7 linked regions of the Homo sapiens genome follow. The protein of the gene in region 2 purifies or fractionates together with the protein of the main gene of each other region. This does not show direct contact. Each region holds a gene or a part of one and is shown on either strand. Other genes may lie near its edges. The genes, in order: ODF2, CDC40, ISY1-RAB43, ESS2, SRPK3, CEP170 and ISY1.

What was found.
Region 1: the proteins of CDC40 (region 2) and ODF2 purify together in Homo sapiens (co-immunoprecipitation; one large-scale study listed by IntAct). This does not show direct contact.
Region 3: the proteins of CDC40 (region 2) and ISY1-RAB43 fractionate together in Homo sapiens (co-fractionation; one large-scale study listed by BioGRID). This does not show direct contact.
Region 4: the proteins of CDC40 (region 2) and ESS2 purify together in Homo sapiens (co-immunoprecipitation; one large-scale study listed by IntAct). This does not show direct contact.
Region 5: the proteins of CDC40 (region 2) and SRPK3 fractionate together in Homo sapiens (co-fractionation; one large-scale study listed by BioGRID). This does not show direct contact.
Region 6: the proteins of CDC40 (region 2) and CEP170 purify together in Homo sapiens (co-immunoprecipitation; one large-scale study listed by IntAct). This does not show direct contact.
Region 7: the proteins of CDC40 (region 2) and ISY1 purify together in Homo sapiens (affinity purification with mass spectrometry; 2 studies listed by BioGRID, with this or other methods). This does not show direct contact.

Annotation. Positions count from the first base shown.
Region 1 is NC_000009.12:128,497,506-128,501,427, forward strand, and holds the end of ODF2 (outer dense fiber protein 2), read left to right. Parts: intron 1-907; coding exon 908-1,070; intron 1,071-1,495; coding exon 1,496-1,621; intron 1,622-2,561; coding exon 2,562-2,750; 3' UTR 2,751-3,787; downstream 3,788-3,922. UniProt on the Homo sapiens protein: Seems to be a major component of sperm tail outer dense fibers (ODF).
Region 2 is NC_000006.12:110,225,198-110,229,119, forward strand, and holds part of CDC40 (pre-mRNA-processing factor 17), read left to right. Parts: intron 1-969; coding exon 970-1,046; intron 1,047-3,634; coding exon 3,635-3,779; intron 3,780-3,922. UniProt on the Homo sapiens protein: Required for pre-mRNA splicing as component of the activated spliceosome. Plays an important role in embryonic brain development; this function does not require proline isomerization.
Region 3 is NC_000003.12:129,133,170-129,137,091, forward strand, and holds part of ISY1-RAB43 (ISY1-RAB43 protein), read right to left. Parts: intron 1,786-3,922; coding exon 1,663-1,785; intron 1,027-1,662; coding exon 905-1,026; intron 1-904. Other genes in the region: pre-mRNA-splicing factor ISY1 homolog, read right to left, coding at 905-1,026, 1,663-1,785. UniProt on the Homo sapiens protein: Component of the spliceosome C complex required for the selective processing of microRNAs during embryonic stem cell differentiation. Required for the biogenesis of all miRNAs from the pri-miR-17-92 primary transcript except miR-92a.
Region 4 is NC_000022.11:19,137,775-19,141,696, forward strand, and holds part of ESS2 (splicing factor ESS-2 homolog), read right to left. Parts: intron 2,254-3,922; coding exon of another isoform or gene 2,251-2,253; coding exon 2,081-2,250; intron 1,956-2,080; coding exon 1,838-1,955; intron 1,519-1,837; coding exon 1,385-1,518; intron 706-1,384; coding exon of another isoform or gene 646-705; exon of another isoform or gene 544-645; coding exon 441-543; intron 1-440. UniProt on the Homo sapiens protein: May be involved in pre-mRNA splicing.
Region 5 is NC_000023.11:153,779,119-153,783,840, forward strand, and holds the start of SRPK3 (SRSF protein kinase 3), read left to right. Parts: upstream 1-1,922; 5' UTR 1,923-1,968; coding exon 1,969-2,027; exon of another isoform or gene 2,028-2,097; coding exon 2,098-2,228; exon of another isoform or gene 2,229-2,386; coding exon 2,387-2,495; exon of another isoform or gene 2,496-2,624; coding exon 2,625-2,712; exon of another isoform or gene 2,713-3,002; coding exon 3,003-3,090; exon of another isoform or gene 3,091-3,653; coding exon 3,654-3,760; exon of another isoform or gene 3,761-3,834; coding exon 3,835-4,000; exon of another isoform or gene 4,001-4,107; coding exon 4,108-4,133; exon of another isoform or gene 4,134-4,633; coding exon 4,634-4,722. UniProt on the Homo sapiens protein: Serine/arginine-rich protein-specific kinase which specifically phosphorylates its substrates at serine residues located in regions rich in arginine/serine dipeptides, known as RS domains.
Region 6 is NC_000001.11:243,192,532-243,196,453, reverse strand, and holds part of CEP170 (centrosomal protein of 170 kDa), read left to right. Parts: intron 1-3,922.
Region 7 is NC_000003.12:129,150,845-129,154,766, reverse strand, and holds part of ISY1 (pre-mRNA-splicing factor ISY1 homolog), read left to right. Parts: intron 1-3,922. UniProt on the Homo sapiens protein: Component of the spliceosome C complex required for the selective processing of microRNAs during embryonic stem cell differentiation. Required for the biogenesis of all miRNAs from the pri-miR-17-92 primary transcript except miR-92a.

The sequences.
Region 1 (3,922 bases), on a different chromosome or scaffold from region 2:
CAGTGGCGGGCGCCTGTAGTCCCAGCTACTCGGAAGGCTGAGGCAGGAGAATGGCGTGAACCCGGGAGGCGGAGCTTGCATTGAGCCGAGATAGCACCACTGCACTCCAGCCTGGGCGAAAGAGCAAGACTCCATCTCAAAAAAAAAGAGGTGGGCAAGAGTCCTCCAGCCCTGGTCCCAGCCTTAGTTTCAGAGGTGAAGGTGCCTGACATCCTAGGAGGCCCTAAGTGCCTCAGGTGGCCAGTGCACTTGCAAGGAGGCTACAACCAAGTGGGCTCCTTCCAGGCTCCACCTCTGCTCTGCCCTGCCAGCCTTGGAAATGGCAGCTAGATCCCCCAGGCCCTGCAGAGCTCCTTAAATTGGAAGGCATCCTGGAAGTGCACTGAGGACAGTGTGTGTATATCGGGATGGCCATATTTGCCCTATGGCTGGTCACACAAGATGTTGAGTGGTGTAGCTGAAGTCCCTTTGCTGTGGGAGGCAGCAGTGAACAGCAGAAGTTGCAGGCTTAGGTTTTGGTTACAGACTTGCCAGCTGTGCTGACTTCAGGCCAATGAATTCCCCTCTCTGAGGCTCAGTTTCTTCATTTCTGAAGTGGGGATAATAATGGTACCATTTTTCTGAGCTGCAAGTTGCTGTGTTCCATGTGATGCTATCCACACTTAACAAAGCCCACGGTCAGTCTCTGCGTTCCCACCCTTCACTCTGTTCTCTAACCAGTTGCTCCAGCTGCACAGTTCTTTGGTCGCCTTGCTGATCTGCAGATTTCTTTGGCTTATTCCTGTGGCTCCTTGGAGATTCTTGGCATGATGAGATCCCCAGTCCAGGAGAGGCTGGCAGCCCCCTGGCGGGGTGGAACATGACAGGTTGGGGTATGCCCAGGATCTGATTGAGTGCTTTCACCTAGGAAACTGGAGGCGACCAGTGCCCAGAATATCGAGTTCCTACAGGTGATTGCCAAGAGGGAGGAGGCAATCCACCAGTCCCAGCTGCGGCTGGAGGAGAAAACACGGGAATGTGGGACCCTGGCAAGGCAGTTGGAGAGTGCCATTGAAGATGCGAGGAGGCAGGTCAGTCCCGATTTCATGAATGACTAGCTCTGTGACCTTGGGCAAATCACCTAAACTCTCAGCTTATTTCTCCATCTGAAAAATGGGCACACAGTAGTACCCGCTTCATGAATTAGTTGTAAGGATCACATTTTCATCGTAGAGGGCTCAGCACTTGATATCTGATGATTGCTCATTTACTCACTACCCTCTTGAGCCTCACATAGGCTTACCACATCTTAGGTGGTGACTCCTGGAGCACTGGCAAAGCTGGGTGGCAGGCATAGTCCCCATAGTTAGTTCCTGCCCCAGCGTTCTAGAGAACACAGTCCACAATGATGTGCAAGTGCTGTCTGCAAGACCAGATAGTGGGCCCAGCCTTCTCTTTGCCAAGTGTTCCCCATGTCCGGTAAACCAGTCTCATGTCTGGGCCTTTGAATGTGCAGGTGGAACAAACCAAGGAGCACGCACTCTCCAAGGAGCGAGCAGCCCAGAACAAAATCCTGGACCTTGAGACCCAGCTGAGCAGAACCAAAACGGAATTGAGCCAGCTGCGGCGGAGCCGTGATGATGTGAGTCAGGCTGGTGGGCCGGGCTAGGAGAGTGGGCAGCAGACCTAGCTTCTGTGGGGCCTGTGGGCCAAGGTGTTTTGTTGTTACTGTTTTTGTGAATATGACATGGTTTTATTTTTCTCCAATCACTTTCTATCCCTTAAGGATATCCTGGGTAGATATTTATTTATTTATTTAGAGACGGAGTCTCCCTGTGTCACCCAGGCTGGAATGCAGTGGTACGATCTCAGCTCACTGCAACCTCTGCCTCCTGGTTTCATATGATCCCCACCCCACCCTCAGCCTCCCAAGTAGCTGGGATTACAAGTATGTGCCACCATCCCTGGCTACTTTTTTGTGTGTATTTTTAGTAGAGATGGGGTTTCGCCATGTTGGCCAGGCTGGTCTTCAACTCGTGATCTCAAATGATCTGCCCATCATGGCCTCCCAAAGTGCTGGGATTACAGGTGTGAGCCACTGCACCCAGACTCACGTTTTGTTTTGTTTTGTTTTGTTTTGTTTTAGACAGAGTTTCATTCTGTCACCCAGGCTACAGTGCAGTGGTGCTGTCATAGCTCACTGCAGCTTCAAACTCCTGGGGTCAAGTAGTCCTCCCACCCCAGCCTCCTGAGCAGCTAGGACTACAGGCGCACACCATCACACCCAGCTAATTTTTGTATTTTTTGTAGAGATAGAGTCTCACTATGTTGCCCATGCTGGTCTTGAACTCCTAGGCTCCAGTGATCATTCCGTCCTGACCTCCCGAAGTGTTGGGATTATAGGCATGAGCCACTGTGCCTGGTCTTAGAATATTTTCAGAAAGAAACCCCATACCCATTAGAAGTCACTCCACACTCGCCTCCCCAAACCTCCTGGCAACTCCTAAGAAAGTCCCTATGTCTCTATGGATTTCTATTTTGGACACTGCACAGCGGGCCCATGCTCTGTTTCTCCTCGTTAGGCGGACCGCCGCTACCAGAGCCGGCTGCAAGACCTGAAAGATCGCCTGGAGCAGTCCGAGAGCACCAACCGCAGCATGCAGAACTACGTCCAGTTCCTCAAATCATCATACGCCAACGTGTTTGGGGATGGTCCCTATTCCACCTTCCTGACTAGCTCTCCCATCCGCTCCCGATCTCCTCCTGCCTGAGGCCACTTATCAGGGCCTGGAGCCCTGATGGAAGCCATAGGAACTCCAGAGTTGCCAAGCCATAGCTGAGAAGCCTGGTGGTTTTCCTCTCCCAGTGAAAAAATGGGTTCAGGGTCTTGTCCTTAGCTACTAGCTCTAGAAAAGTCCCAAAAGCAGCAGAAGGTGAAGCAGGAAGCACTTGGTTTTCTCCTTCCTGATATAGTCACCTGTTGGAAGTGTTAAAATTTCCTCGACAGGCCTTAAATTTACTACTACATTAGGGTACCACATTTTAACTTACCATGACTTTGCTCCTTCCTTTCCTGAGAAAATATTTCCACTGGATTTTTTCCACCAGTCCCCTTACAGCCCTCATTGTTTTAGGAATCTCTCTCAGGTTTTTTCTGACCTAAACCAGCAGGAAGTCGTCCTGGGCTGTAAGCACCATCACTTGCTTTTTTTTTTTTTCTGATTTCACAAGTGTGGTGTTTTCCCAAGGCTCCCTTCCCAAGCTCAGTGCAAACCTCTCACTCCCAAGTTTCTTTGAGGCCACTTGCCCCCAAGCACTTCACAATAGACCCTCGAGGGCTTGTGTCCATTTGGCCTTTTACAAGTGTAATGCCAATTTCATTGATTTTTGTTTCTTTTGGCCTGATTTGTATCTCTGGAATGCATTTATTCTTGAAATATTTGTGTGATTTTACAAAAAGCTTTTGTAATCAGTTATTTAAGGCTCCATTTGATGATTTCCTTTACCCAACCAGTCCTCATCCCTCCTCTAAAAAATGATTAAGTAAAATGCTGCAGGACAGCCAGTAGACATTTTTAAAGTACTTGGTGCCTGAAACATCAGGCTTCTCATTTCATTTTAGCTCAGGTTGGTGCTTTCACATTGTAATCAATGAACTGTCAGGAGGGAACAAACTGTAAGAAGGATTGCTTGGTGTTTTAGGGTAGATCACTTTAGCTATTAGGAAGAGGATGGGGTAGTGTACAGTATATATTTTTAAAATGTGAATTGGTTTCTGAATAAGAATCTGGGCCATTTTTGTTCACCATTTTTGTTCGTACTGTGCTAACCTCTGCCCTTCTGATTCTAGCTAGTATTGGCCTGGGTGGTCCAGTCTTCTCACCTCTCAGCCACTCTGACTCAACTCTAGAGAATTTCTTCTCTGTTCTTTTTTCTTCTGGAG
Region 2 (3,922 bases):
AGTTAATCAAAGTATTGGAACTTGAAACAGGGTTTGAAATTGAAATTGCTGCTGTATAATCTGTGTTATTCATCAGATTACAAAAAAAATATTTCTGGTCTCATGAAAAGCAACAAGACGAAAACTCCTTTCAGAAAAGAATTTTTAGCATGGAGAATATTAAAAATGAAAAGGCACTTAGAACTTTTGATGGTTCTAAATTTAGGTGGCTACTTTTTAATTTTTTTTTCATTCTTTCATCACTCACATGAGGTTTTTTTTTTTTTTTTATGTTTTTTCTCCTTCACCAAACACATTTGAAATGCTTTACATGTAAACTGAAGATAGTCCAGGTACCAAGCATTTATTTATCATCATTTATCATCATTTCTGGATGGGCTAGATCAGCTCACAGATCCCTACAGCTTTGCCTGCCATCCACCTGCATTGCTGCAGGCTGTTTAACACTCTCACCTCCTCAAGTTAAGGTAGGCTAGCCAGTAAATAACACTTCCCCATAGGCTTACCTCAGACATCTTGCTTCACCCTACCATGGTACATTTTTAATTTAATTTTTGGTTTTATTTCAACAGCTTTTGGAGTAAAAGTGGGTTTTGGTTACATGGATGAATTATATAGTGGTGAATTCTGAGATTTTAGTGTATCCATCACCATGGTACATTATTAAAGAACTTTCTTTCAGTAACAGATTTTTTAACATAAAGGCCAAAGTTTAAATGAAATAGAAAACAAAATCACCACCACTGTTATAATGATCATGGAAAGTGATTTATGAAGTACAGGATTTACCATAAGCAGTACAGTGTCATCTTGTGATTTTTCTTCTTCCAGAAAGTTTCATGAAAGATTTATTAAATATATAATATCAAGAGTTTGCTTTTATTTGCATATTATTCCTTTGTTCCAGAGATAATTCTGAAGGTACTTTTTAAAAGTTGCTTATTCTGATATGCTATTTAAAATTTTTAGGGATATCCCTGTGGATTTCAAGTACATAGCAGAACCCAGTATGCACTCAATGCCTGCAGTGACTTTGTCTCCAAATGGTGAGTTAGTATGTAGATTGTATTTTTAAATGAGCTTCTAAGATACAGTGTGATTTCTTTATTCAAAAGAACTTTGGCCCCTTCCTTCTTGGGGAAGTTTGTCACTGTGCCATTATTTGTATAAGGTAATCTTTACAATATTAGAAAGAATTACTGGTTTTCATATGCAAGTCACCTCACCTACTTTTCTGTGTCTCTTTTTAAATAAAAATAAAAGAAACAATGATTTACAGCTAACATTGATTGAACATCAGATTTTTATTTAACAATCAGTTTTCTTTTCTTTTTTCTTTTCCCCTCCTCTCCCCTCCTCTCCTCTCCCCTCCCCTCTTTTCTTTTCTTTTCTTCTTTTCGAGACAGGGTCTCCCTTTGTTGCCCAGGCTAGTCTCAAACTCCTGGGCTCAAGTGATCTTCCCTCCTCAGCCTCCCAAGGTGCTGGGATTACAGGCCTAAGCCACTATGCCCGGCCAGAGTTTTCTTTTCTAATTCTCCTTCCAAACAGAATCACGTTCAGTAAATCATTTAATAATGATTTGGCCAAGGCAGAAGAATCACTTGAACCCAAGAGTTTGAGACTAGCCTGGGCAACATAGAGAGACCTCATCTCTACAAAATAAAATTTTAAAAATCAGCTGGCATGGTGGTGCACATTTGTAGCCCTAGCTACTTGGTCAGGCTGAGATGGGCAGTTTGGTTGAGCCAGGAGATTGACTATGATCATGTGACTGTACTCCAGCCTGGGCAACAGAGCAAGACCCTTCTCTCTAAAAAAAAAAATAGTAATAGTGATTTACTGTAAACTCTTTCAGGGGATAGGAAGTTTTGGTCTGATTCTCCATAATGAGAGAACACTTTAGCAATTCACTATAAAAGATTTTCTCAGGCAAAAATTAAGAAGATAAATCTATTTAATATTGTTTAATCCATTGTCTTTTACGTACAAGATAATTTGTGCTACAGATATACTGACAATATACTGATGTAATTATAGCTTTACATGAGAGTCTTAAAGTGGGAGTTCTGATGTTTGGGGGACCTTGTCATTGAAACCACTGTCAATTCACATAATTAACTCCAAGTGTAGGGCAAGGAAGAATTTGCTGTTCCATCAGGGCCTCTGACACAAGCAAATGGTAATAGTTGTCAAATGCTCTATCATTTTTATGAGAAGAGAAACCTAACTGAACCTTTTTTTGATCATTGCTAGATTATATACTTCGTCACTGTGCATCTATATTTCATGTAGCGTATTTTTAAACCACCTATTACAGATTTTGTGCCCATCTTGAACAAGGCCATTTACCCACTCAGGCATTATTTAAGTCTGTTTCCTTAGTAAGTAATGTTTACATGTACAGTTGGCCCTTTGTATCCATGAGCACCATATCCTGGGATTCAACCAGCACGAATCCAGAATATTCAACAAAATAAACAATAAAAAATAACAATACAACAATTAAAAACAACACAGCATAACAACTAGGTACAAAGCATTTACGTTGCATTAGGCATTATAAGTAATCGAGAGGTGATTTAATGTATACAGGAGATATGTAGGTTATATGCAAATACTATGCCATTTTATATAAGGGACTTGAGCATCTGTGAATTTTGGTATTGGGTAGGGGTGCAGATCCTGGAACCAATTCCCAACAGATACCAAGGGATGACTATATATAGGATGCAAGTATAGTCATGCATTCCTAACAACAAGGGTACTTCTGAGAAATGCAGTGTTAGGTGATTTTGTCATTTTGTGAACATCACACAGAGTACTTACACAAACCTAGATGGTATAGTCTACTTACCCTAGGCTGTATGGTATAGCCTGTTGCTCCTAGGCTTTACCCCTGTATGGCATGTTGCTGTTCTGAATAATGTAGTCAGTGGTAAGCATTTGTGTATCTAAACATAGAAAAGGTACAGTAAAATCTCAGCATAGAAAAGGTACAGTTAAAATTTAGCACTATAATCTTATGGGACCACTGTCATACGTGCGGTCCATCATTGACCAAAACATTGTTAAGTGGTGCATGACTATAGACGCTGCAGTTTAGGCTCTAGGGGCTTTGATGAATCCTAAGTAGAGAAAAGCATTGTAGCCTTTTAAAAAGTTACTATAATTTTTAATATATCTTTTTTTGTATAGTTTTATTTAATAACCCTAGGCTTTCTCACCCCTTAATCTTTCTTTATTCTGTAATTACCACAGATAAGTCTCTTTCTCCTATTTCCCATAGTTCTGTTGTCTATACTTACTATAAATTAATTTCATTTCACAACTTTTAGCTTATTTCTTTAACATTAAGCTTGGAATTTCTATATTTCCTTATTTTTTTAAAAACTTTTATATGAGAGTGCTCAATGATATAGGATCGTATATGCAAAAGCCATTAGTTTATATATTAATACCTCTTGCCAGTGACATATTTATAACATTTTACAGGTGGTATAGTAAATTTATTTTTTAGTATTATAAAGTATTTGGGAGCAAAACTTATATTAATCACAGTGAACATATTTAAAATAAAAAGTTTTAAAAATTGTTTTAGTCTTCCTCTAAAATACCTCATTTATTGAATTTACAGGAAAATGGCTAGCATGCCAATCAATGGACAACCAAATCTTAATTTTTGGAGCACAGAACAGATTTAGATTAAATAAGAAAAAAATTTTTAAGGGCCATATGGTAGCAGGCTATGCTTGTCAGGTGGACTTTTCACCAGACATGAGGTAAGTTTAAATCTTCTAATCCATTCTCGTATTCAAATATGATTATATAAACTGTTGTTGTACAAATAACACTTGACACATCACTCTCACATAATATGTTTTTATGAGAACTCGATGATCTGTCAAAATTGTCAAAATGCTGG
Region 3 (3,922 bases), on a different chromosome or scaffold from region 2:
TGTTTCATAGAAAAAATAAAAGGTGTAGCACAGACAGATATGTCAAGATTACTTACATGGTGGCTATAATAAAAAGTAATAACTAAGATATATAATGAGTATTTCCTATAAATCAGAAAATATGCAAAAGATCAGAAAATATGCAAAAGGTCTGAAAATATGCAAAGATTCCCCAACCATGACCCTCTAAGAAAGTTTCTTCTCTGCTCTGCGTTTCTTTCCATGTGTAAGACAGGGGTGTTAGGGCTGGGAGCAATGGTTCACACCTGTCATCCCAGCACTTTGGGAGGCCAAGGCAGGTGGATCACAAGGTCAGGAGTTCGAGACCAGCCTGGCCAATATGGTGAAACCCCGTCTCTACTAAAAATACAAAAATTAGCCATGCGTGGTGGCACTCGCCTGTAGTCCCAGCTACTTGGGAGGTTGAGGCAGAAGAATTGCTTGAACCCGGAAGGCAGAGGTTGCAGTGAGCCAAGATTGTGCCACTGCACTCCAGCCTGGGCAACAGAGCCAGATTCCGTTTCAAAAAAAATAAAAAAGATGGGGGTGTTAGACTACAGAAGAGCAACTGCCACTGACACGTGAACAGAAGTGATGAGGTCATGGGCTAAAGCTCATGGCTTCCTCTGTGTTTATCAGTCTAATTCTAGTGTATGCAGAAGGGCCTGTCTTTAAGAAGGAAAGAAGGAAGCCCTGGTGTAAAGCACGGCCGGCAGGGCACTCTCATGGCTGCTGCCTCCTGAAACCCTCCTGTAATCTCGCAAGTGTTTTCACAGCCATCCTGCAGGTGAGCAAGCTGGGCTGTGAACCCTGACTCTGTATTTGGGAGCCAAGTTTCCTCCCTGCCACACTTCATGGCTTGGAACAGATGGCAGTGAGTGCCAGAGGGGGCCAACCCCAATACCTCCTCCTCGGTGACTGCATAGATGTTGATCTCTTCCTCCTCTTCCTCCTCCTCTTCCTTTTCTCCTCTTGCCAGCCGAGCCTCTCTCTCTGCTTTCCACTTTTCCACTAACTCGGCTCTGACTGAACACAAGAGAGGGTAGGTGCTATTTATTTGTCTCTAAATGAGCTTTCAACACTATGCAGGGAAAGGCCAACACTATGCAGGGAAAGTCTAGACATCCCCTCTAGAAAGGGACACCCTTCATTCTGCCCCCGTGGGTGGAAATGGATGTGAAGCATGGTAGTCCTACAACAGCTCTGGCCTTCAGTCACTACAAAGCAGCTTTTTAGGGAACATTCCCAAATCCTCCCCACTTCCACAACCTGAGTGGATTCCCAACATGTCCACATGAAAAGAGAGAAGGCAGGGGCAGAGCATGCTAGAAAGCAGCTCCAGCTCCAGACCACTTGCTTCCAAAGTCCTGGCCTGATGTGTCACATGGGCACTGGTATTAGCACGAATCCACATGGTGACCTCCTAGCAGACAGGGACCGGTCAGACGTGGCTCTCATGGCTTCCCCAACCTGTTACCTCTGGCCCACACAGCTTTGACTGCCTCACAGGGGTCAGGGAATTAGCAGACCATCACGCCTGAAGATCATTAGCAACAAAGAAAACTCCCTTCTGGCATAAAGCACTATTGAAAATCCTGTTTTCAAAGGACACAACAGAAAACAGATGCCATCTATTATGAAATAAAATGCCCAGAGACCTACGTTTCTTTTCATATTCCTGTTCCAAAGGCACAATAACACCATCATCTTCATCTAGGTAACCATAGTACTCAAAATCGATTGCCTTCATGAGCTCAGCACGTGTCTTTCTGGGAGGAGGAAGAGCTATAAGAAACAGAAATGGAGCTGAGTTTCCAAGTCATAATCACACTCCAGCGAAGCTGTCTCCTGATGCAACGCTATACACACACGTGGCACGTATGTTCATGAAAATACCAGGTGGGCGCAGTGGCTCATGCTTGTAATCCTAGCGCTTTGGGAGGCCCAGACAGGTGGCTCACAAGGTCAGGAGTTCGAGACCAGCCTGACCAACATGGTGAAACCTCGTCTCTACTAAAAATACAAAAATTAGCCGGGCGTGGTGGTGCGCACCTGTAATCCCAGCTACTCAGGCTGTGGCAGGAGAATCGCTTGAACCTAGGAGGCAGAGTTTGCAGTGAGCCGAGATCACGCCACTGCACTCCAGCCTGGGCGACAAAACAAGACTCCATCACACAGAAAAAGAAAATACCATGGATAGACACTTTTCTATACTATTCATGGAATTATTTAAGTGGTAGAGCCCTTTTTAAAATCAGTACTTGGACCCATTTGTCCGTTTAAAAGCAATCTACCTAAGTAAAAAACAAAACCAGGCCGGGTGCGGTGACTCATGCCTGTAATCCCAGCACTTTGGGAGGCCGAGGCGGGAGAATCACGAGGTCAGCAGTTCAAGACCAGCGTGGCCAATATGGTGAAACCCCATCTCTACTAAAAATACAAAAATTAGCCAGGCATGGTGGTGGGGGCCCCTGTAATCCCAGCTACTCCTGAGGCTGAGGCAGGAGAATCGCTTGAACCCAGGGGACAGAGGTTGCAGTGAGCGAAGACTGCACCACTGCACTGCAGCCTGGGCGACAGAGCGAGACTCCATCTCAAAAAAAAAAAAACAAAAACCAAACACGAGATAGCAAAAAGCTTCATGTACAGAAATATGCATCACAGTATTATTTATATAATAGAGAAAACTTGGGAATAACCTATGATTGTAAATTGCAGAATATGTATGGGATGGGATATCCTGCAGCCCCTGTAATGCTATTTCACAAAGTATTTTAATAACACAGGAACTGTCATAATGTTTAATGAAAAAGCATGACAGGAAACATAAGTAAATAAAAAAGACAAAAGAAGCTAGAAACAAACAAAAAAGATACATGAGAAAGCCCTAAAGAAGATATTTTCAGACTAGGACTACAATCCAGAATATTTAAGTAATTCTTTTTTTTTTTTGAGATGGAATTTCGCTCTTGTCCAGGCTGGAGTGCAATGGCATGATCTTGGCTCACTGCAACCTCTGCATCCCGGGTTCAAGCGATTCTCCTGCCTCAGCCTCCCGAGTAGCTGGGATTACAAGCACCCGCCACCACACCCAGCTAATTTTTGTATTTTTAGTAGAGATGGGGTTTCACCATGTTGGCCAGGCAAGTCTCGAACTCCTGACCTCAGGTGATCCACCCGCTTAGGCTTCCCAAAGTGCTAAGATTATAGGTGTGAGCCACTGCACCCGGCTAAGTAATTATTAAAAATGAAAAACAAAATGACAACCAACCAGATTGGTGAAAGAATAAAAGCTGGCCAGGTGCAGTGACTCATGCCTGTAATCCCAGCATGTTTTTTTCTTTTTTTTGTGGGACGGAGTCTCGCTCTTGTTGCTCAGGCTGGAGTGCAATGGCGCAATCTCAGCTCACCACAACCTCCGCCTCCTGGGTTCAAGCAATTCTCCTGCCTCAGCCTCCTGAGTAGCTGGAATTACAGGCACGCACCACCACGCCCGGCTAATTTTGTATTTTCTTCTTCTTCTTTTTTTTTTTTTTTAAAGACAGAGCCTCGCTCTGTCACCCAGGCTGGAGTGCAATGGCGTGATCTCAGCTCACTGCAAGCTCCGCCTCCTGGGTTCACGCCATTCTCCTGCCTTAGTCTCCCGAGTAGCTGGGATTATAGGCACCTGCCACCATGCCCAGCTAATTTTGTATTTTCTTCTTCTTTTTTTTTTTATTTTTTATTTTTTAATTTTATTTTTTTAGACAGAGCCTCACTCTGTTGCCCAGGCTGGAGTGCAATGGCGCGATCTCAGTTCACTGCAAGCTCCGCCTCCTGGGTTCACGCCATTCTCCTGCCTCAGCCTCCCAAGTAGCTGGGATTACAGGTGCCCGCCACCATGCCCAGCTAATTTTTTGTATTTTTTTTTAGCAGAGACGGG
Region 4 (3,922 bases), on a different chromosome or scaffold from region 2:
CTGGCGTGTGACACAGCACCAGCACCCAAGAGCACAGAGGCCAGAGTGCAGAGGGACACCCACGCATGCCACAAGACCACCTGAGTTTCACCTCCACTGAGGTGCTGGGCCTCCCTCCCTGCAGTGCTAGGTAGACTTAGACTCATAAGCACTGTGCACACACCCCCACCCACTGACATCACAGTAAGGACCAGGACAGGACACGTCATCCCAGGATGTCTCAGGCCAGGTCTGCCTGAGAGTCCAGCCCACCCACGGCCCCAAGCAGCCTGGACACCTGGCCTCTAGGGCCTTGTACAGACAGGAGACCAGGTCCCTGAGTTACACAAGGTGTGGGGCAGGCCAGGTAGAGGCCAGGAGTGGCCAGGGCCGACTGAGAAGCCCACCTCCCCCAGGGAGTCCCAGCAGTAGACCCACTTGCCAGTGGGCACTTTTCTCACCAGGGGCAGGGGAAGGAGTGGCAACAAATCCAAATCCACCCACTCGAGGGGACTCCTGGGGGATCAGCTCCTTGCCATCGGGGCCCACCTTGCCCTGTTTGTGCTGGAACAAGCAGAGAGGCTGGCATCAGGGGGACCGCAGCCCACGCTCGACAGCTGGCCGGTGGGCAAACACGTGGGAACATGCTGGAAACACTTCCTCTCCTCAGGGCAAGGCTGGGGCTCTGGGGTTGGCAGCCTTCTTGGAGAAAGAGAGGGAGGGCCCCTGCCCCAACCCCCCAAAAGACCTTGAGGGCCTGTCAAAGTGGGTACCCAAGCAAGGAAAGCCCCCTCCTCCCATCCAGGGAGGTGCCAGGGCCTCCACTCGAGCTGCGCCTATCCCAGCAACTCCAGAGGATGCTGACGCCAGGCCCCTGCAGGGGGCAATGCTGATGACAGGCAATGCTGATGACAGGCAATGCTTATGCTCTAGTCTCTTCCTGCCTTCCCCACTTCAACCCTGTGACTGCCACAGTCACCATCAGAGAGTATCTACTCGTCTTGCTCCCAGACTCAGAAAGCCTCTGCTCTCTGCCAACCCAGGGCCTGTCCCACCCCAGCCACCCCCTGGGGCTGGGCTCCCTCTGCGGCTCTCTGGCTTCCCTGCCCGGTGTGTGGGCGTGCAGCTGCCAGCCTGGGCTCACTCCCAGCAGTCCCTTTTCTCTCCTGCCCCTGCCATCAAGGGAGCTGGCACAGATCTGGACCTACAGAACGTGTGTGACCAAGGCAGTGTTCAATGGAAGCCCACTGGGGCCAAGGAAAGACTCAGGATCCTGCCGCACAGGGCCCCAGATGGTTCCACTCACTGAGCTCTGCCAAGCTCAAAGAGATGGGAGAGATCATGCCTGCCCCCAGGCAGCCCTGTCCAACCTGGCCCATGCGGCCCTGCTGACCCGCCTGCTCACCTGGGCATTGAGGGCGGCTGCCTGCTGGAGCTGGCACCTGCTCAGGGCTTGGCTGAAGGGGTCCCTAAGGAAGCGCGTGTTCTTATGTACCACCTGCCGGGGCTTCTTAAACAGCTGCTCCTCGTCAGGGACACCTGGCAGACGAAGCAAAGGTAGCAGCAGGTGTCAGAAGGGCAGCAGCCTAAGGAGCATGAGGAGCTCGCTTCTCGGCCAAGTCACTCCCAGATGAACAAAAGCATTGAGCAGAACGCAGGCCCCAGTGCCGCTGGAGAGGGTCTCACTCACTGCTGACCTCACACAGACCTGTCCACCCTTAGACAGACCAGTACCCATCAGAAGCCCAAACTGCAAGGGGGCACGGCCATACACACCTGGAAGGCTGCTCCAAACACAGCCAGACACACACAGCTCTACCCAACACCTCCCCATTTGGCTGCGAGGCCCGCCACTTACCCTCTGGATAGTACATGAGGGAATTCTTGGCCTTGTACTTCCAGGTCTCCACACTGGCCTGGCTGCTCTCGATGGCCTGGTGCTCTGCTGACGGGAGTTCGAGATTATCTTTCTGCCTCTGCAATCACATGGGGAAAAGTGATGGTCAGAGATGCCCCTGGGCATTGTACCCATGGCCCTGGGGCTCCCCAACCACCACAGAGGGTGCCTACGCCTATGTGACACCCCAGACCCCAGAGACACCTTCTCAAACTCTTCCTCAGCCTGGTAGAGCCAAGCGTGGCGTGCCCGGCTTCTCTCCTTGGCCACCTCCATGATCTCCTGGAAGGAGGCATTGTCCTCACTCGTGTAGCGGCTCAGGAAGACATCTAGGCTGGGCAGCGGCTCCTTCTCCTCCTCCTCTCCAGCCTCTCCTGCTTAGGGGTTGCGGGAGGAGGAACACAGCACCCTTTGCAGTCAGGAAAGAGGAGGACACCCAGGCCCAGGAATCATAGCCCCCAACATGCAGGGCTGGAATCCTCTCCCCTGGTCCTGGCTTCTGCCCATGAAAGCCCACACTGCCAAGGACTCCCCACGGGGGCAGAATCCACCCACCCTGACTGCCCAGAGAGCCCTCAGGTGGTACCCTACAGATTCAGGGCCAGCTCTGCTCATGTGCTGGATGCCAAGGGAATTACGTGGTCTGATTCAGACTGGAGAAAGCAATACAGGTGTTAGAGCAAGAGCTCGTGATCACAGGCAGGCTCCTCCCCCACCAAAGTGGTGCCAGGCCTGTGGGTGCCAGGCCTCCAAATCCCTGGGGCTCTCCCTCACTCCCTAGGATTTCCTTACCTTACCCACTCTTCTCTTCCTGGTACCTGTACTACAGGTGGGTGGTCATCGCCTAATCATCCTGACCTGAGAGCGAGCCCCAATTCCAGGGATCTCATATGACTTAGTCCTCTGGATGGGGCCTCACAGGTGCTAAGCCACAACCCCAAACACCCCCCCCTCCGACCAACCCTGCCACCATGGAAAGTGGTACTCCCACTGAGGTGGTGCCCTGGTGCTGCGTGTGGTGGTGCAAACTTCGGTGGGGCCACCTGGAGAGCTCTGCCTTCAAGTCTAGTGACAGTCCTGACCACCTGCTACACGTGAGGCTATGCACAAGGCACAGTGGCTACAAGCTCAAGACCCACGGGATGAGGACAGGGGTCAGAAACTCTATTCATCTCAGAGAGATAAGAAGTGAAACCCTGACCATCTCTGAGACCTGCAGAAGTGACTGCCTTTCTGAGCCTCAGTTTCCTCACCTGTAAACATGATGATGGTTCCTACCACTTAGGTTCTGAAAAGGATTCCTATATTTACTGGCATGTAGGTGTACAGGTATTGAAAATCTGCAAACTGGCTAGGCATGATGGCTCACACTTGTAATCCTAGCACTTCGGGAGGCCAAGGTGGGAGGATCACTTGAGCTCAGAAGTTTAAAACCAGCCTGGGCAACATAATGAAACCTCATCTCTATAGGAAAAAAAAAAAAAAGGAGAAGAAAAAAATCTACAAATTGCCCTGTGATGCACAAGCTACATTTCAACAGATAATCAAGCTTCAAGGACAACAAGGACTGTGTTAATGGCCGAAAAAGCTGGATTGTAAAGCAAAAAGTATCATGTTTGCATGTTTGTGCAAACACACAACACATCTGTGCTACTCCAGCACAGTGGAGTCTACAAACTGATAAGAAAGAGTGTCTCGTTTGTCTATACATGCACTGACATTCTACTACTGATGAAAAGAGGGCCTGACAACGCAGAAGTCCCATGGCGTGCAGAACACTTGCATTCAACAGGACTCGGAGTGCCCTTTCCTAAACCGACTCCCCCATCAAGTCACGATGTTACCATATAGAGCTGTGTGTCCCAGCAAACATGCTGAAGATGACAACTCTTTCATCTGTTCCATGTGTATCTGTGCAAGGCCCACAACACCACATGTGCTGTTCCCAACACGGAGCATACAGATGAAAGCAAAACAAAGCTTCTGCTCTTGTGCAAGGGATGCCAATTAGGGAAAGAGACCATAAACAGAAATGCCTTTAAAACG
Region 5 (4,722 bases), on a different chromosome or scaffold from region 2:
GGGAGCTGGCAGAGCCTGGGGGCACAGGGTGCAAAGCCAGGCACTGTGCCCAGCAGTGGGCTCCCTGCCTGCCACCTCCCCTGCCAGCCCACCCACCTTCCCCCCACCTGAGATTGTTTCTAATTTATAAGGATCCCCCTCCTTCCCCCTCTCCCCATTGTATTTATTTGCCTGCTGGAAAATCACATCCGGAAATAAAATAGAAATATGTCTTTTTATTTTATTTTGAGACGGAGTCTCGCTCTCTCTCCCAGGCTGGAGTGCAGTGGCGCAATCTCGGCTCACTGCAACCTCTTTTTCCCGGAGTTCAAGCAATTCTCCTGCCTCAGCCTCCCGAGTAGCTGGGACTACAGGCGTGTGCCACCACACCCGACTAATTTTGGTATTTTTAGTAAAGACAGGGTTTCCCCATGTCGGACAGGCTGGTCTCAAAACTCCTGACTTCAGGTGATCTGCCCGCCTCAGCCTCCCAAAGTGCTGGGATCACAGGCATGAGCCACCGCGCCTGGCCAGAAATGTCTTTTGACAAAGGGCCCAATCCCCAGCCCCTGCTGTTCCCTGCAGGAGCTGACTCAGTGCTCTCCTGACTGAGAGTCCCTCAGCCCCATGCCTATAACCTGCTACCCACAGACAAAGAGAGGCCATCAGGTACCCGGGCTTCACTTTCCCTCCCACTCTCTGACCTCGCTGGCCCCTCCAGCAATGCCTGGCCCACCCCTACCAGTTCACGGACCCTGGTACAGGGACACTGCACCAATATCTTGGGACAAACACCCTCTCTGCCGAGCCCCCTCCCTTTCATTGGGACTCCTCTGTCAGGCCCCAGCTGGCCTCCCGGCTCCACCCTCGCCTCTCCATTCCCTTGTCCTTGAAGTGGCCAGAGTGATCTTTTGCTGAGCAGAAGCTCAGTGACCACCCCCCAACCCCATATCACCCAAGCTCCACATTAAGCCTACAGACACCAGGCCTCTAGTCCTCGCCCTCGAACCATGCGGCAGCCGTGGCCAGCACGTGAAGGGCTGGAACGCGTCTTGGCCGCAGGCCTTGCCCCACTGTGCCCTGTGCTGCCCTGGATGCTTCTGGGGACCCAATTTCTCCTGGTCTCTCATGATGCAGCCCCTGGGTCACAGGCCCCTCAGTCACCACCGCACTCATGGGGAAGTGGCTATGGGCTTGCTTGTCCCCAGCAGTGAGCAGCTTCCTGCTGCCTCCCTCATGTCTGGCTATGGAGCAGCCCACGACAGGCACCTTGCAAATGGTGGAGAGGAAGAGCAGGCGCTGGGAGCCAGAGCGCCAGGCAGCGTCGCAGGAGCAGGTTCTGGGCTGGCAAGCTCCCAGGCCTCCCCTCAGCAGGCCTGTTGCCTCTGGTAGGGGAAATGAGGGGTCCCCAGTGACGCCACATTCAGAGGGCACTGGACTCCCAGTTGTCCTAGGGGCTGATGAAACATAGAAGAAGCAGGAAGTGGCTGGGAGCAGCCAGGGACAGGGTTCCCATGGGAATGAGAAGGGCACCTCCAGGAGGATGCCCACAGGGGCACAGGTGGTGGGGGCTTGGCCTAAGGACCAGGTTGCCAAGTGGAGCACATCCCCACAGTCCGCACCGGAGAACGGGAGCCCGACCTGGGGTACGGGCTGCTTCACCCCCGCGTGGACCTCCCCCTCAGCTGGGGTGCGGAGGCTCAGCCTGGGGGCCCAGTTGCCCCTGGTCCCCAAGCAGCAGCCCCCTCTGCCTCCAGGGTGGGCCTGGAGCAGGAGGGGGGCCTCTGCCCGGGGGCCGGGCTCTCTGGGGCCGCCGTCGCGCCGCCCCCTCCCCGCACCGCATACCTTGCCCACAGCCGAGCAGCTGGGAGGCTATTTATAAAGGCGGGTGAGATCAGCGGCCGGCCAAGGCTATAAATTCGCAGGCCGCGGCCGGGCCCCACAGGAGCAGCCGCCCGGGGCACCGGAGCTGCGGGCTGCGTGGCCGGGATGAGCGCCAGCACGGGCGGTGGTGGGGACAGCGGCGGCAGCGGCGGCAGTAGCAGCAGGTAGGGCTCGGCTGGGGCACCCGGAGCCCCTGGCGTCTCTCATGCCCACTGCCACTCACCCCACCCGCAGCTCACAGGCCTCCTGCGGGCCCGAGTCCTCGGGCTCCGAACTAGCCCTGGCCACACCGGTGCCTCAGATGCTGCAGGGCCTTCTGGGCTCCGACGACGAGGAACAGGAAGACCCCAAAGACTACTGCAAGGGTGAGACTTGGCCTTGGGGACATGCGGCCTCACGGCCACTGCAGGGACCCAGGGCAGTCCTGGGCCCACATGGGCCAGATGGTCAATGGGGCCGAGGTGTTCGGGGGCCCAGGGGAGTGAGAACCCCCTCCACCCCAATCTACATCTCCCCTGGGCAGGCGGCTACCACCCTGTGAAGATCGGCGACGTGTTCAATGGGCGGTACCACGTGGTGCGCAAACTGGGCTGGGGCCACTTCTCCACCGTCTGGCTCTGCTGGGACATCCAGTGAGTGCCTCCTTCGCCTCCGGGGCCCAGCACTGGCTGGGATCCTGTCCCTGGGCTTGCTTGGGGCCACCCTGATCCCCGCCGTGGGTCCTGCCAGGGCCACAGCCTACAAGGGTCTCGGTATTGCAGGCGCAAGCGCTTTGTGGCCCTCAAAGTGGTGAAGAGTGCGGGGCATTACACGGAGACAGCTGTGGATGAGATCAAGCTCCTGAAATGTGTGAGGCACCTCCCTACCCCACTCCCAGCTCCCCTGGAGCTGCCTGGGGCCTGGCAATGCGGGTGCAAGGCCTGCCGGGGCTCTGTGGGGCAGGGCGGGGCTCCCTGAGGGGCAGCCTCCAGCTGGCTGTGCCCAAGGGGGAGGATCTGGAGGAACAGGCGAGGGACAGGAGGGGTTGGCGGCCTTTCTTCCAGCAGGGCCCAGCTGGAGCAGGAGAAGGGTACACTGAAGGGAGCTGTGGGCTTCAGGGCAGGGTGGAACCATCTGTGGCCCCTTGGCTTTTGCTCCAGGTCCGGGACAGCGACCCCAGTGACCCCAAAAGAGAGACCATTGTCCAGCTCATTGATGACTTCAGGATCTCAGGAGTCAATGGAGTCCGTATCCTTTGCAGGAAGAGCAAAGCAGTGTGGCAGCCAAGGGCCGGCAAATGGGGGGGCCCTCGCTGCTAGAGCCTGTCTGCAGACCCGCACAATGGGCTTGCATCCCTCCCAGTAACGGGAGCCTCTGGCACGACCCCGCCCCCAGGTAACTGTGTTTACGTGGAGGCAGTAACAAGCTAGCGTTGATTGTCCATGGACGTTGCTATTATCCCCAAACGGCAGGTGCTGTCTCTGTGGCACTGCCTTCCCTTTGGGGGACTGCCAAGAGGCCCTATGGCATAACTAGCATGGGAGTGGGCTGGCCCGAGAGGCCTCTGTGCCTGCTCCTCCAGCGCCACCTCTAGGATGACCACAAAATGCACCATCCCAACTGGCATACCTGTTGAGACTGACAGGGACACTATCGATGATGACACCAGCATAATGGTGACCAGGACTGCCCAGGGGAGGCCCTGCCTCCCCACCTCCACACGGCCCAAGCCTTGCTGCTCCCCTAGCTGAGGGTGGGTGGGGCCTGTGCCGCAGCTGGTGTCCACTGGCCGCCCTTCACTCCCAGCCCAGATGTGTGCATGGTGCTGGAGGTGCTGGGCCACCAGCTCCTCAAATGGATCATCAAGTCCAACTACCAGGGCCTGCCCGTGCCCTGCGTGAAGAGCATCGTGAGGCAGGTGAGTGCCACCCACTGGGCTGCCCAGCCTGGCCTGGGCGGGAGTTGGAGGAGGTCAGGTGCGACTCTCTGCAGGTGCTGCACGGCCTGGACTACCTCCACACCAAGTGCAAGATCATCCACACGGACATCAAGCCCGAGAACATCTTGCTGTGTGTGGGGGACGCTTACATCAGGCGCCTGGCTGCCGAGGCCACGGAGTGGCAACAGGCAGGGGCGCCGCCCCCCTCCCGCTCCATAGGTACCAAGGGCCCACATGGGGCTGGGTCGGGGCCTCTGGGCCTGAACCCCTGCCTGAGTCTCTGTTCCTCCCTGTCCCCCCCCACCGCTCCCCACCTGCACTCCCAGTCAGCACTGCCCCCCAGGAGGTCTTGGTAAGTTGGGGGGCCCCTCTCTCCCATGCCTCCTCTCCCATCTGAGCCAACTGGAGGCCATCTCTGGAGCCACAGTGGCTCCACCCCCCACCTTCACGCACTCCCACGGTGGTAATCCCGAAAGGCTGGGTGGCTGGGCTGACGGTAATTCCCGGGGGGGGTCAAGTGCCCCAAACTGCTCTTGGTGAAAGGATGCTGTCTTCCCCGAATGGCCACTTCCGCCTGCCTTAGCTTGGGCTGAGAGGGGACAGAGAGCACCCTGAGGCGGGCCGGCCAGGTCTTCCCACTCCTAATGGAGCTGTGGGGAGTGGGGCCACAGGCGGGGAGGCAGGGAGAGTAGTGAGTAGCTGGTGCCAAGGGGCGCTGGCGCCACATTCTGGTGTCCATGGGAGCCCTGGGGCCCGGAGAGGCCTCTTCCCTGGCGGCTGTGCAGGGAAACCTCCACTTCATGCTGACTGGGGCGGGCGACAGGAACCCTGGGGTGACCCTGGCTCTGACAGCAGACCGGTAAGCTGTCCAAAAACAAGAGGAAGAAGATGAGGCGCAAACGGAAACAGCAGAAGCGGCTGCTGGAGGAGCGGCTGCGGGA
Region 6 (3,922 bases), on a different chromosome or scaffold from region 2:
TTTATCCAACATTCTTCTGAGTGCTTTGTATGCATTTATTTAATCATCACAGCAATACCTAAAGGTACAGTTACGGTGATTTTGTAGATAAAGAAACTGAGGCATACTGAAATTAATTTACTTGTCAAAGTCACCCAACTACAAATAATGGAGCTGGGATTTGAACTTAGATTGCCTGACTCCTGAGTCCACGCTCTTAACCATAAGAAGTTTTAATATTTCAGCCATCATTACTCTTGTAAACACAATCACTCTAAAAGGATATACTTCATAGGGTACAAAGATTTAAACAAATACTCCAAAATCAAATAGCCATAAAAATTGATCCCTCCTAGCTCAGCATAATAAAATAAATTTCAAATGTGAAGCATCCAGCAATACTTTCATCTATATGAATGTAACTGAATTCTCAGCTTGTGTACTCTTTCTGCTAGATGACCAAAAGCCGTCTCATGATCTTGGGGTTCTTTTTGAGTAATAATTCAGTGATTTATGTCTTGTGTCAAATTCCTTAAAGTGCCCTGTCAGATACAGCTGATTAGTAATAGCCTTAAGAGACTCTCACTTGCTTTCTTATGTTAGTATGAGGATATTACTGTTTCAGATTTATCATTTGCAGCTTTTTAAAATATAGGATGAGGAAAATAGTTTACTGTCTTGTAATAATTTATGAAGCCAGCAGAAATTGTAGAATCAGATTTGAAATGTATATCAAGTGTTCTTTAATGTGGTCATTTTGAAATTAAGGTATTTTTAAAAACTTAAACTTTTTTTTTAAGTTTCAAATTGTGGAATATACGTGATTAGTTTAATAATTTATCCTGTAGCATACTCTTAGTGAAAGCAAAAAGTGATTTGCTTCTTCGTTATTAATTTTTAGAGTTGCATTCCAGAAAGGATAATAGAGTGTTTGCTACCTAGTAATTTTTAACGTTCCTCTCTGTGGGTTCATATATATCCAGAAACTCCCGAAGACTTGCCATATAGCTTAAAAAGCCCTGGTTTAAGCAAATACTTACTTTAGAGCAATTTCGTTCTCCAGAAATTGTGTGACTATTTTTAATCGTATTAAGACGTAAAGTTTGTCCTCAATTTATTTACAGCTATGCTTTTCTACCTCCTAACTTGGTCTCAACAATTAATTTAGGTTATAATTAAAGGCCTTTAACTGTTGCACACATTTTGAAATGGCATGTGCAACTGGGAATCATAGATTTTTGGCTCTCTCATGTTGATTTTTAATCCAGCGAAACTAAATTTGGAAATTTTCAAGTCGTAGCTCCTTTTAAGCAAAAGGAGCTTCCCAGTCTTCTTAATTTGACATGCTTGAACAGACTAGGTTAGATGGATGTCTTAAGCAGAATGAGCTGTTATAATTATAGTCCTTGTCATCTCAAATAAGTTTAATATTTCATTGAATTTAGTACAGAAGAATGAAAAGAACATTTATTCTGGATGAAGTATAAGTATCCCTTATAACATATTGTGTTAAGGTAACACAGTCATAAAATACCTTAAGAACATAAGCAGATTATCACCAATTGCTTTTCTGATTGAGATATATGGAATTAATTATGGCATAATCAATCATTAAATAATTTTTTAAAATCTAGTAATTGAGATTAATAATATAATATTAGTCTAAACAAGTATTTACTCTATTATTTAGTTTCATTTGGTATAACAAAATGAGTTTTGAAGATAGATGAATGTTAAATTTCTAAATTCCAGAATATGTTCTGTTAGTGTTCTGAGGGAGGAAAGGTGTTTTATTTTTCTGTGTTGATTAGAAGACCCCTTATAGTTTTCTATTAGGTACTTCTCAAGTGTAGTTGGACCACACTTCATCTGTTTTTATCATCTTTAGGGAAATGAATCCTTCCACATAATGAATTTTCCAGATGATTGAACTTTACTTTTACAGTTGATAGTTTTTTTGAAGTTTAACCATTTCCTAAGTTTCTATTAAATTAATTACCCATATTACCACCTTCTTAAGCAGAGAAGTTTCAGTATAATTTAAAACTTTTTCTTATGACTCAAAATCATCAATCATCAATATCAGTATTACTATTATATATATCAATAGCAATAGCAATATTGATATAATCAATAATCAAATATATTAGTAATATAATAATACTGATACTGCCTTACAGTAATGTCCTCAGGAGACTGTAGTATATAAGACTGTTTGCCCTATATACTGAATGGTACTGGACTATCATGTTTTTGGGGCCATTTGTCTGCTCTTGTTTTTCATCTTGTCTCTACCACTTGGTGCAATTTGTCTGTCCTTAATCCTCACTTTTGTACCCTGCCCAAGGTTTGCTACATGTGATCTGAGTAAATAGTAAAAACCTCTCGGTGAAGATCTTAACTGTTAGTAATGTTTATGAATATTCAAGGATAGGCATTGTCATATCTGTCTTGGGTTTTTTAGAGTTGGGTTTTGGTATTAGCTTTTTGTCTTCCTGATTCTCAGCTGTTTTTGAAGGTGGAGGGAGAAGCATTTATTTGTGTACCTGCTTTGTTCTGGGTAACTTACATGATCTCACTTAATACTCATCTCACTAAATCTTCACAACAATCTTATGGGAAGATACTGTTTTCTCACTTTATGATGAGGAAAATGAGGACTACAGACTGATTAGGGATAAGATTTATCTGATTTCAGATCTTGTCTGGGCTTTGCATGAAACCAGGCTGCCTGGTTATGATCATCAGATCATAGTCTGCTGCCTTTCCACTCTATTGTGCTACTTGACCTGGTTAGGTACTTGATTTCTAGATGAATTAGTTATTAACTTGTATAAGTCTCAAGTTTCTAGCTTTGAGTGAATGCGAGTTTGAAGTAGTACTAACATGGGAATGGTGACCTTCAAAACAGGTGACCTTGATAAGTGCTATATCCCTGGCCAGCTTTTTTGTGTTGCTTCATAGCTGAGCCACATCAGTTTTATTTAGCTCTCTGTATAGTGGATCAGTTTTATTTGGCTCTCTGTGTAGTGGTATTAGAAACTACCATCTTGACGTTGTTCTGTCACCTGAAGGATGAGCAAAGCAAAAACAAACTATATGTATATATCTATATGGGGGGAGGGAGAGAGGACAGGTTTATGAACCAGTTGTACTGTATGGACTTGATCAAGTACAGTACATTGTGCATAGTAAAAAAAAATCAATGTCTGAAAAAATAGAAAAATAACATTAATGAACTATTAATATATGAGAAGCAGTTAATACATTTTATTCTAATGGAAATTTTAACTAACATGACTTCAGAGTAAACACTCACAAGTCCAGCTGAACATTTTATTTTTAAGAAAAAGACAAATTAACTCTTTAATCAAACATTTTTTTAAACTTAGGTCATGTCATATAAATGTATGATTATTTCTCTGATAATGTAGAGTTTTTCCAATACTTTTCTTTCATGTTCAGTGATAGGAAAGCTGAGTAGATTTTAAAAGGGATAATTTTTCACAGTGAAAATTACAATATATTCTTTCATATTATATGTTCTCTTTGCCTTGTGTTTAGATTTTTTTGACAATTTATTATTATTATATTTATTGTGGAAATGGAGCTTGTTGTCTTCCGTGCCCTATCCCACACATTTGATTATGAAAGAGAGATGTTACTATATCATTCTTCTGTAACCTAAAAGCAGTCAGGTTTTATATTATTTCATATTCAGACTGCTGTCAAGAAACCAATTATAGTACCTGACAGATCCCACTAAAATTTAATTTTTGAAAAGATGTTTCAAAAGACCAAACGCTTCACTTAATTAGAAAATGTTTGGAAACAACCTAGTCTCCCTGTATTGCCTTGTTTTCCTAATAAATTGTCTGTAAGTGATTTTTCTATTAATCTGTTTAAAAGCAGAATTTATTTTTGAGCTTTAGGGAAATATGTC
Region 7 (3,922 bases), on a different chromosome or scaffold from region 2:
CAGTGAGCTGAGATCGCGCCACTGCACTCCAGCCTGGGAGACAGAGCGAGACTCTGTCTCAAAAAAAAAAAAAAGATCAATAAAATTGATAAACTTCTAGTCAGACTGACCAAGAAAAAATATACACAAATTAAGAATATTAGGAACCAAATTGGGAATATTACTATAGAATCTATATACATTAAAAGGATAATAAGGAAATATTACAGACAATGTTATGCCCATAAATTTGACAACTTAGATGAAATAGGTCAATTCCTTACAAGACACAAACTGCCAAAGCTCACTTAAGAGAAGTGGTCCTTTTTTTTTTTTTTTTTTTTTTTTGAGATGGAGTCTTGCTCTGTCACCCAGGCTAGAGTGCAGTGGCGAGTTCTCGGCTCACTGCACTGGGTTCAAGCAATTTCTCCCTGGGTTCACCTCCCTGGGTTCAAGCAATTTCTCCTGCCTCAGCCTCCCGAGTAGCTGGGATTACAGGCACCCTCCATCATACCTGGCTAATTTTTTTTTTTTTTTTTTTTTTTGAGACAGAGTCTCGCTCTGTCACCCAGGCTGGAGTGCAGTGGCGCCATCTCAGCTCACTGCAGGCTCCGCCCCCCGGGGTTCACGCCATTCTCCTGCCTCAGCCTCCCGCGTAGCTGGGACTACAGGCGCCCACCCCCTCGCCTGGCTGATCTTTTGTATTTTTAGTAGAGATGGGGTTTCACCGTGTTAGCCAGGATGGTCTCGATCTCCTGACCTCGTGATCCGCCCGCCTCGGCCTCCCAAAGTGCTGGGATTACAGGCGTGAGCCATGGCGCCCAGCCAAATTTTTGTAATTTTTTAGTAGAGACAGGGTTTCACCATGTTGAACAGGCTGGTCTTCAATTCCTGACCTCAGGGGATCCACCCTCCTCGGCCTTCCAAAGTGCTAGGATTACAGGTGTAAGCCACAGTGCCTGGCCGAGAAATAGTTCATTTTGTTTTGTTTTGTTTTGTTTTGAGACAGAGTCTTGCTCTGTTGCCCACACTGGAGTGCAGTGGCATGATCTTGGCTCACCGCAGCCTCTGCCTCCCGGGTTCAAGCGAATCTCCTGCCTCAGCCTCCTGAGTAGCTGGGCCTACAGGCGCCCACCACCATGCCCAGCTAATTTTTTTTTGTATTTTTAGTAGAGACGGGGTTTCACCATGTTAGCCAGGATGGTCTCGATCTCCTGACCTCATGACCTGCCCACCTCACCCTCCCGTAGTGCTGGGATTACAGGCTTGAGCCACTGCGCCCAGCCCTGAAGAAATTTTTGATTGTTACAACTGGAAGGGTGCTACTGGCACATAGTGGGTAGAGGCCAGGGATGTGCTAAGCCTCCTACAAATAATTATCCTAAATAAACTACAGTGTCAATAATTCTACTGTTTAGAGACACAGTTCAAAAAGAAATGGTAAACCTGAGTAGTCCTATATCTGTTAAAGAAATTGGGGCTGTGCACCGTGGCTCACGCCTGTAACTGCAGCACTTTGGGAAGTGGAGGTGGGTGGATCACCTGAGGTTAGGAGTTCAAGACCAGGCTGGCCAACATGGTGAAACCCTGTCTCTATGAAAAATACAAAAATTAGCCAGGCATGGTGACGCATGCGTGTAATCCTAGCTACTTGGGAGGCTGAGGCAGGAGAATCACTTTAACCCAGGAGGCAGAGGTTGCAGTGAGCCAAGATTGGGCCACTGCACTCCAGCCTGGGTGACAGAGCGACAGTCCATCTCAAAAAAAAAAAAAAAAAAGATGGAAAGAAATTGAATTCATTTCTAAATACCTTTCTAAAAGAAAATTCCAGACCCAGATGGCTTCACTGGTCAGTTCTACTAAATATTTAAGGAAGAAATAATACCAACTCCACATAGTTTCCTCAAGAAAATGGAAGAAGAGGGAACACTTTGTAACTCATTTTGTGAATTTTAGTATCAGCATTACCCTGATGCTAAAATCAGAAAAAGATATTATGAGAAATAACTACTGACAATATTTCCTATGAATATAGACAAAAATCTTTAATGAAACATTAGCATATCAAACCTAGCAATGTATGGCCGGGCGCGGTGGCTCACGCCTGTAATTCCAGCACTTTGGGAGGCCAAGGTGGGTGGATCGTGAGATCAGGAGATCGAAACCATCCTGGCTAACACACGGTGAAACCCCGTCTCTACTAAAAATACAAAAAAATTAGCCGGGCGTGGTGGCAGGTGCCTGTAGTCCCAGCTTCCTGGGAGGCTGAGGCAGGCGAATCGCTGGAACCCGGGAGGCGGAGCTTGCAGTGAGCCGAGATTGCACCACTGCACTCCAGCCTGGGCGACAGAGCGAGACTCCGTCTCAAAAAAAAAAACAAAACCTAGCAATGTATAAAAAGGATAATACATCACAACTAAGGAGGATTTATTCTGGAAAAACATAGTAGATTCAGCATTCAAAAATAAGTTAATTCACTGTGTCATTCCAAAGAAGAAAAACTGTATGATCTAAGTAGATGCAGAAAAAGTATTTGACAAAATTAGACGTTTATTCATGATAAGAACTCAGCAAACTGGGAATAAAAGGGAACTTTTTACCCTGATAAAGCACTTCTTTTTTTTTTCTGAGACGGAGTTTTGCTCTTGTCACCCATGCTGGAGTGCAGTGGTGCAATTTCAGCTCAATGCAACCTCCGCCTCTCAGGTTCAAGTGATTCTCCTGCCTCAGCCTCCCGAGTAGCTGGGATTACAGGTGCCAGCCACCACGCCTAGCTAATTTTTGTATTTTCAGTAGAGACAGGGTTTTACCATGTTGGCAAGGCTGGTCTCGAATTCCCAACCTCAGGTGATCCACCCACCTTGGCCTCCCTAAGAGCTGGGATTACAGGCATGAGCCACCACACCCGGCCCTGATAAAGTACTTATAAGAAACCCATAGCCAATAAACTATTTAATGGTGAAGGATTGAATGCTTTCCTCTTAAGATCAGGAACGAGGCAAAGACATCCACTCTCACCACTATATTCAGCGTGATGCTGGAAATCCTAGCCAGTGCGGTAAAGTAAAAAAAGGAAATAAAAGGCATAAAGATTAGAAAATAATAAGTAAAACTGTCTTTATTGTAACATAGAAAATCCTATATAATTTTCTTTTTTTTGAGATGGAGTCTCGCTCTGTCACCCAGGCTGAAGTACAGTGGTGCAGTCTCGGCTCACTGCAACCTCTGTCCCCTGGGTTCAAGCGATTCTCCTGCCTCAGCCTCCTGAGTAGCTGGGACTACAGGCATGTGCCACCATGCCCGGCCAATTTTTGTATTTTTACTAGAGACAGAGTTTCGCCATGTTGGCCAGCCTGGTCTCGAACTCCCAACCTCAGGTGATCCACCCGCCTCTGCCTCCCAAAGTACTGGGATTACAGGCATGAGCCACCATGCCCACCTAAAATCCTACATAATTTTCTATGTAGAAAATCCCAAGGAACCTACAGAAAGACTTCTAAAATGGATAAGTGAATTTATCAAGATCACAGAAAAGAAGTTCAATATACAGAATTATATATATACACACACACCCCATATATATTCATATATATATTTTTATATATTTATATATATTTTTATATATTTATATATTTTATATATTTATATATATATATATTTTTTTTTGAGACAGAGTCTTCCTCTGTCACCCACGCTGGAGTGCAGTGGCCCAGTCTCGGCTCACTGCAACCTCTGCCTCCCAGGTTCAAGCTATTCTGCCTCAGCCTCTCGAGTAGCTGGGACTACAGGCATCCACCACCACACCTGGCTGATTTTTGTATTTTTAGTAGAGACAGAGTTTCACCATGTTGGCTAGGCTGGTCTGGAACTTCTGGGCTCAAGTGATATCTGCCTGCTTCAGCCTCCCAAAGTACTGGGATTACAGGTGTGAGCCACCATGCTC